2 separate regions of the Homo sapiens genome follow, and region 1 is linked to region 2. The links come from fine-mapping of genetic effects on plasma protein levels. A gene starts in region 2. The other region holds a variant in brackets. All regions are shown on one strand. Distances are between the middles of the regions. Region 1 holds the start of CLEC4E (C-type lectin domain family 4 member E). Region 2 holds the start of CLEC4D (C-type lectin domain family 4 member D).

The links. PIP is the chance, under the fine-mapping model, that this variant and not a neighbour inherited with it causes the effect. The UK Biobank Pharma Proteomics Project read protein levels with antibody pairs (Olink). The fine-mapping took linkage between variants from a reference panel, not from the people measured, so its PIPs are less certain.
Region 1: its variant is fine-mapped to the plasma level of the CLEC4D protein (UK Biobank, PIP above 0.99).

The regions. Positions count from the first base shown.
Region 1 is chr12:8,539,144-8,543,543 of GRCh38, reverse strand. CLEC4E (C-type lectin domain family 4 member E) reads left to right here and starts at 2,639. Exons shown (of 6, transcript NM_014358.4): 1 at 2,639-2,783; 2 at 3,597-3,689; 3 at 4,238-4,327. The coding sequence starts at 2,747. The variant A/G (reference allele first, on the strand shown) is at 2,722.
Region 2 is chr12:8,511,558-8,515,957 of GRCh38, reverse strand. It overlaps CLEC4D (C-type lectin domain family 4 member D), which reads right to left and starts at 2,455. Exons shown (of 6, transcript NM_080387.5): 1 at 2,198-2,455; 2 at 630-722. The coding sequence starts at 2,225. It also overlaps the pseudogene SUPT4H1P2.

The DNA of each region.
Region 1 (4,400 bases), 28 kb before region 2:
GCTATAAAGACACATGCACACGTATGTTTATTGTGGCACTATTCACAATAGCAAAGACTTGGAACCAACCCAAATGTCCATCAATGATAGACTGGATTAAGAAAATGTGGCACATATACACCATGGAATACTATGCAGCCATAAAAAATGATGAGTTCATGTCCTTTGTAGGCACATGGATGAAGCTGGAAACCATCATTCTCAGCAAACTATCGCAAGAACAAAAAACCAAACACCGCATGTTCTCACTCATAGGTGGGAATTGAACAATGAGAACACTTGGACCCAGGAAGGGGAACATCACACTCTGGGGACTGTTGTGGGGTGGGGGGAGGGGGGAGGGATAGCATTAGGAGATATACCTAATGCTAAATGACGAGTTAATGGGTGCAGCACACCAGCATGGCACATGTATGCATATGTAACAAACCTGCACGTTGTGCACACGTACCCTAAAGCTTAAAGTGTAATAAAAGATAAATAAAAATAAATAAAAATTAATCCCCCCCCCCAAAAAAGAAATCATTAAGCATGGTCAACTTTAGAAGAATGCACTAAGGATAGTTAAGAAGGCTTTTACTTGTCACATGCTTTTCATAGTATTAATCATAAAACATATTACTCGTATAATTTGGGGAAAATCAATGAAACAAAAGATATAAAAACATTTTGGCTGGAAAAAATATTAATTTATTGATTTCTGTTTAATTGTATATTGATAAAAATTAACATACAATTGTTTAGTAATATTGATGGTTGCTGGTTGATTGTAATTAATAAAAGATGGACTGTGGTAATTATGTTCATCATTTTATAATTCATATAGCTCATCCACTAGATAGTTTCTCTTTTTTTACTGATCAAAAGCTATTTGCTGAGAATACACATATTAAATATGGGTATATTCTATAATATACACATATATAATTTAAAGATATTTTTAAAATTGTATTACTATAAAACAGAGAATGCAGAGAAAATTGACCAGTACCTTGAAATAATAAAAAGTCCCTTTGAGAACAAGAATATTTTCTCACACATGGAAAATTCGTGAGTCACTGGATGTGGGGATTTACCAAGTCATGTACATCATACTTATGCCTCCTGACTCGTGAACTTAAATAAACTGAGACCAGTGTGATCTTATTCTTAAGTATCTTTAAGTAAGGAGAAGGCACATATCTAACTATTCTTCCAGAGAAGCATTAATTCTTTTTTTTTTTTTTTTTTGAGACAGAGTCTCACTCTATCGCCCAGGCTGGAGTGCAGTGGTGCAATTTTGGCTCACTGCAACCTCTGCCTCCCAGGATCAAGCTATTCTCCTGTCTCAGCCTCTCAAGTATCTGGAATTACAGATGCGTGCCACCACACTTGGCTAATTTTTGTATTTTTAGTAGAGGTGGGGTTTCACCATGTTGGCCAGGCTGGTCTCAAACTCCTGACCTCAAATGATCCACCCACCTTGGCCTCCCAAAGTGTTGGAATTACAGGCATGAGCCACTGCTCCCGGCCCAGAGAACCATTAAATTCTAATATCTAATTGAAATTGCTTTTTCTGACCTTCAAATACATTTCTCCTACTGTAGGCTGTAACATAGAACTAAAATCCCCAAATAATTGAGAACAGGAGAATTAAACTGCCTGCTGGGTCTCTGAGACTTCAGAAGCTGCGTTATGTTGTGAAAAACTAAGCTGAGTTTCAAAGTGGTCTAATCACATGAGGCTGTCCTGCTGAGGGGGACTCTAGTAGTCAGCCTAGTAGTAGCAGCCTAGTAGTCAGCATAAGATAAGAGGGACATAAATCCACAACATTAGAATATTCAAGAGCTGCAAATGAAGAAGAAAGAAAAACCATAAAAGATGAAAAAGAGGACGGGCGCGGTGGCTCACGCCTGTAATCTCAGGACTTTGGGAGGCTGAGGCGGGCGGATCACGAGGTCAGGAAATTGAAACCATCCTGACGACCACAGTGAAACCCCGTCTCTGCTAAAAATACAAAAAATTAGCCAGGCGTGGTGGCGAGCGCCTGTAGTCCCAGCTACTCGGGAGGCTGAGGCAGGAGAATGGCTTGAACCCGGGAGGCGGAGCTTGCAGTGAGCGGAGATCATGCCACTGCACTCCAGCCTGGACGACAGAGCGAGACTCTGTCTCAAAAAAAAAAAAAAAAAAAAAGATGAAAAAATTCAGGTTGCCATGTCCTAAATACATACACTATATGCCCAGCTTTGTGCTATGTTGTCTAAGTCTTCTTTTCAGTTACCAAATGTGTGGATGGTACAGATCCAAAGTGAAATTCAGAGTGCAGAGGTGAGCTCCATATTGTCAAGGAAAAACTGGGGGATGAGTTATGCCTTGAAGAAACTAGAGACATTTGGTCCAACGAAACGAAACAACATTTAAAAAAAAAACTCTCCTGTTTCCCCATGGCTAGCCTATTTGTGTTGATGCTTACCATTTCATAATTTCCTCATTTTGTTGTTACATGGAGTGAAGAGAACTGACATGCTGTCCAATAAACTTCCTTGTCCTCCTTATGCAAGAAAGGAAATCCTGACTTAATGCGTAGCCACAGAACAAGTTAATATTCTACATCTATCGGAGCTGAACTTCCTAAAAGACAAAGTGTTTATCTTTCAAGATTCATTCTCCCTGAATCTTACCAACAAAACACTCCTGAGGAGAAAGAAAGAGAGGGAGGGAGAGAAAAAGAGAGAGAGAGAA[A/G]CAAAAAACCAAAGAGAGAGAAAAAATGAATTCATCTAAATCATCTGAAACACAATGCACAGGTAAAATCTGCAACTCTTCCTTTCCTTCCATAGATCTCTTTTTGGAACAAGTGATAAATATGGTGAAAGACAGGACAATAGAAAAGTATTCACTGAAGTTAAAAAAAAAAGTGGGGGGACAGAGGAAGAGAGAGAGAGAGATTTAAAGACTATTTCTTATACCAGAAAGCCTGCTGGCCTCTAGCTAAGGGAGAGCTATCAGTTTCCACCCTTTCTGCAATACATTGTGTCCCTTTTGGCAAGTCACTTCACTTCTCTGGAACTCTCTTTGTCTGTAAAATGTTTAATGGGAGGAAGAGAGGAACTATTAGATGACTGTTAACATTTTACCTAATTTACAAAGCGCTTGAAAAGTGAGACACAGAAAAAAAAAAAAGATCAGGAGAAGGACAAGAAAAGCAAAGACGAGAAAAGGGAAAAGAAAGAAAAAGAAAGAAGGGGGGCCTTAGAAAATACTGAAAAAAATTTAACTGAGAGACTTAGAAAGGAAAAATTGTATATCTGAGTTCATGAGTCAGAGTCTTACTCCAGGGGTGCTAAACGTGTGGTCCTCAGACCAGCAGCAGCAGTAGCCCCTGGGAACTTGTTGGTTCCATACAAACTCTACTGAGTTGCTAACTCTGGGGGTAAGGGTCAGCAATCTGTGTTTCCATAAACCCTCCAAGTGATTCTGAAGCATGCTGAAATTTGGGAATTACTCAGTACAAACAATGGAAGTAGAAGGAAATAAGTAAGGATGAATAAGAATCTCTTCTATCTCTTTTGTACCTTGCTTAGGGAAGATTGATCATGTTTGTGTCTTTCTTTCTACAGAGAGAGGATGCTTCTCTTCCCAAATGTTCTTATGGACTGTTGCTGGGATCCCCATCCTATTTCTCAGTGCCTGTTTCATCACCAGATGTGTTGGTGGGTTCTGAAGGTCAAATTCAATTTAATTCTTCCTGGTGCATATTAGGAGAAAACTCTTCCATGCTGCCTGTAGACTCTCTTTGCCCTCAAAGGGTCTTTCTATTTCACCCTTTTTTTTTTCCCTATTAATCTCTAGGTTATTTCTCAAACCAGAAACCTCAACAAGCAGGGAACTGTTTCTGAATTTTAATCACCTGTGACTTACTTTTCATGATAGACATTTTTCACTTCCTTGGCAGTCCTGAATCCTCCTCTTTCAGCCTCTATCATTAGTGTAACCTTCTCTAGGAGAGTCTGCCTTAGAGCTTGAACTACTGGTCGGCACCAGAGATATGACTAATTACTTTTGGAAGGAAGGGTAGAGAGAGTTGGACTTGGCATAAGAGGTAGTGCAAACATATCTATTTTCTCTGGGTCGTAAGAAAAAGCAGATTGTAAGAAAAAACATGATAATTATTGGCACTTTTGTTATAAATACAAAACTGAGGGAACTGACATTTTTAACCGAAATAAGACTAACAAACATTATGCCCTTTCTTTTACAGTGACATTTCGCATCTTTCAAACCTGTGATGAGAAAAAGTTTCAGCTACCTGAGAATTTCACAGAGCTCTCCTGCTACAATTATGGATCAGGTATAATAGTCCCAAAGGTGAACATCAAAATTTACAAAGCAACATTTTCTGGCTTCTAGATTGACTTTGGGAC
Region 2 (4,400 bases):
TGTAACCAAGCTCTCCTTTATTTTCCTCTAGTCTATTTGTCTTGCACCTATATCATATTACTTTAATTATAATTATTTTATGTTTGATATCAGAAAGAATTTTTTTAATGGTGGTGATGGTTTCAAGGGTGTATACTAATCCCCCAAATTGAGATGTATACATTAAATATGTACAGGTTTTCATATGTCAATCGTACATCAATAAAGAGGTTGAAAGAAAGGAAAAAAGAAAGAAAGAGAGGGAAAGAGAGAGAGAGAACAATTCTTCCAACCTTGTTCTTTTCAAAGCCAGTCTATCTGAAAGTTATTTTTCTTCTGCTTACTCTTTTCTCATAAGATGTATCCCTTTGTGATCCCAGTCCAAAATGGGGGGAAATTTGCTATAGTAACCAACTTTTACATGTACAGAAAATGGTCTAAATTCCATCAATCAATCTCTATCACAAGGTACCACCATTGAAAGACAGAAGGTCAAGAATGTAGCTCTGAATATTCAGTGCAAGACCCTGAAGATATTATAGATAGGTTATGCTAGGAAAAATCAAGATACCAAAAGGCTTAGAGCAACTTCAGAAAAGTTGTTTGGAAATAATAATTCAAGAAGAGTTCTACTTTGGCTAATAACTTACCCAAACAACTTGCAATAAAACAGACACTGAGAAGTAAGATGAAAACTACAGCAATAACCGAAGGTATCAGCTGGGGATGCATGCCTCCTTCCACTAGGACCAAAAGAAAAATAGAGATTAACCTCCTCTCAGCTACAAGCTAGGAAAGCTAATTCTACCAAGGAGCAATCTAAAAGTGACAGCAAACCAAATATTTCAGATCTAGAGAAGAGCATAAATATTTTCTCCAAATAAATCAATTTTAGAGCTTATTGATGAATAAATAAATAAGAAAGAAAAATGTAAAATTTCTTGGTAATTTTGAAATGAAAAGAATTTTATAAGTAAGATACAAAACCCAAGAGCCATTAGAATAGATAATTTGAGTACATAAAAATTAAAACTTCTATATAACACAAGCAATGTTAGAGTCAAGGAACGTATGAAAGGAAAGTCTTCTCATAATATTAATATCCGCACTGGATAAAGTATTTCAAAATCAACTAGAAAACTGAGCAAAACTCTGAGCAGGAAATTTGCTGAAATTTTAATTTGCTGAAGTTATAAATAGCCACTAATCAAACAAAAATATGCCCAATCAGGGAACTGTAAACGAAAAGATTGTGGTATAACTTTTCACACATCAGATTTTTTAAGTAAATTAAGTACATGCAGTGTTGGCAAGGCTGAGGGGAAATAAGCACTCTTAGTGAGAAAATAAATGCTGCTGCCTGGACTGGAAAATTAGGAATGCCTTTTAGAAGGATCAATTTAGTGGCATTTATCCATTTTTAAATGCATTTCATTTGCCACAATAATTTCAATTACAGGTGTCTATTCTATAGAAATAATTGAGCTTGTTTATGTTAAAAGATATTCATTGCAGTACTTCTCAAAATAGAAAACACATACTGTAATCTAATATTTACATGTATATTATCAATAGTGGAAATTCTAAATTATGGTCCCTTCACACAATGATATTCTGTATAGTAATTAAATAAGCATGTAATCAGTATATATTGATGCAAAAAATCTCTAAGAAATATTGTTACCTAAAAAGGTAATTCAATAGGATCACACTGTGATTACAGTTTGCCATGGTAGGGTGATGAGATAAAGTAAAACTTTAATTTTAATTTAAACATTTCCACACTTGTTCTATATATCTATCAAAAATATTATTTAATATTATCACAATACAAATCCACTGGTGTCACTTAAGTCAAACATAAAATGGGACAGTTAGAGCCTCTGATACAGCATAAGCCTAAATGCTTTTTCTACATCTTCCTTTTCTCTTTTTTCTTTAAAAGAATCTTCTCATATTACTCTCTTTCTTTTCATCTTATTTCTCTTTTATATATTTTATCTCCCCTCTTGGTCCAATATACATTTTATAAAGAAGTTTCTGTTATCCAACTTATTTGACTCTATGTCCTTCCTCTTCACCAACGTCATTTTTATTTCCTTCCACCTCCTTCTCCCCGTCATCATCAACAATCTTTAAAACTACCATCAATTCATATGTTTTAAATTAGTATAATTCCATCTGCTTCTTTGAAATGGAAAGGAGAGAAAGTACTCACGTTTACTTTGAGGTTTTTCTAGCCCCATTGTCTAATTAGTCTCTTGTTCAATGGTCAGGACGGCAAGAATTTGTTCTATTTTTTTTCCCCCAGAGTATATTTCTGTGGATAGGGGAATATATTCAGAAATACTTGAGATCGAACACCAATGTTACATATTGTAGTGAGATTAGAAAGGTACCAGTATAAGAAAGTTAGCTCAAAAGAAGTCTTTTTCAAAGACAGGGGTTTCCTTTGATACATTCCGGGAGATGAGGCGAAAAAAAAAAAAAAAGGAAATTGAGAAAGCAATACCAAACAACAGTTAGTAGAAACCCACAAGTATGTTGAGATCACTAGATCAGTGTGAAATGTGGAATTTCTCAATTTGTTTTTTTTTTCATTTAGACAAAAAATTTAGCAACGCCCTAAAAGAAATAATTGTTATGCCCAATAAAAATTTAGTAAATGTCCCCTCTTTTTAAATTCTTTTTGTGAATATTATATTTTCAAAGGCAGTTATATTCTTGGGGTGAGTTCTATACTAAAAAGTTCTCTGGACTGAATAAAAAGTTGAGTCTAAGAGAGCAAAAGACAATGTGAACAATGAACAAAAACTTTTAAAGTATACCTTGTGTGTACATGGCATGTGAAGACACAGCAACCTTTGTTTTCGAGTTGAGGAAGAGATGATAGAGCAGTTAATTAAATCCCAAGAACTTTCTAGGTGAGCAAAAAGAGTTGTGTTAAGGCAAAGACAAAGAAAATGTAAGATTCTGTGATAAAGACACCATCAGGGTCCCTGACTTCATTTATAGCACTGTTAGGGAGTGAATGTCTGTATCTCCTCAAAATTCATTGGTGGAAGCACTACCCTCCAACGTAATGGCATTTGGAGGTCAAAAGTTTGGGAGGTAATTAGGTTTAATATGAGGTCATGAGAATGGGGTCCTCATGATGGAATTATAAGAAGAGACCCGGCTAACGAGCTGTTTACTTCCTGCGGGTGCTCAGGCTGTGGCCATCTTCCTTGCTGTTGCTCTTCTCATTGGAGAAGATGGCCCTGGAGACGGTGCTGAAGGACCTGTGGCATCTGTGGGCCTGTTTGCTGTGTTCACTGGTCAAGGTACTATAGACCAGTTTGAATATGATGGTTGTGACTATTGAGATGCATATCTACAGATGAAGGGTAACTGAGAGATGCTATATGGCTGCACCAGCTCCTCCTTTGATGGAATCATTGCGATGATGAGTCCAGAGGACAGCTGGGTCTCCAACTGGCAGCGAGTCAATAACTTTAAGCCAGGTGTATATGCGGTGTCAACCACTGGTCGCTTGCCCTAAGGAATCGTGCGGGAGCTGAAAAGTTGAGGAGTGGCCTACAAATCCAAAGACACAGCTATAAAGACCAGACGCAGGGCTGCCAGCGTCTTTGCTCTCCACCTCCTGCCTCTGCTTATTTTTTGTTCTGGAACTAAATGGGCAGAGCTTCAAATGCTTCCTACCCTCCAATTCAGACTCAGCCAACTGTTGAGAGAACAGCACATCATTTTATCATTTTACCTTATTTGGACTTCAGGTGGGGGTGGGAGGGATTTGGGTTGGTGGATTAACAGATGGAATTGAGGAGAGAGTAGGATGCTGACTTTCCTACCTGTAGCCCAAGGCTGCGCCTTGCTCATGAAGAGGTCTAGGTCAAATGTCAATAAATAGAAACCTCTAGAAAGTTCTTAAGGCCATGACACCTGCCTCGCTTCCCTCTTCCTTTCTCTTAGGCACACAGTAAGAGCTTATTTGCCCTATAAGATACCTTCCCAGAGCAGCAGAGGCCCTTCCACTCCCTCTTGACTGTCTCAGCCTCCAGGATTGCAGCCTTTGTAGTGTGCTTCCTTGCTTCCTATCAGAAGGTGCTGTCCAGAGGCTCAGTAACCCCATCAGCTTGGTGGCCCTGGTGTCTTGTGCTTGTATCCTTCTGCCCTTGAGACCTGGCACAGCAGTATCCCTTGAAGAAATCCTGAGGCTTTGTCGTGCTCCTTGCTCCTTGACCATGTTTAATAATTCTTTTCCCCCTCTGCTCGTCAGTTTTCTTCTCTTTACTGCTCTTCCTATATCTTAGGCCAGTCTCACACACTCACATTTTACATTTTCCTTACTGGAGACCCTTGGGCCTTGGCCGACTGCTGGGTCCTAGTCTGCCTTGTTTGTGCCCCTGTAGGAGGCAGGT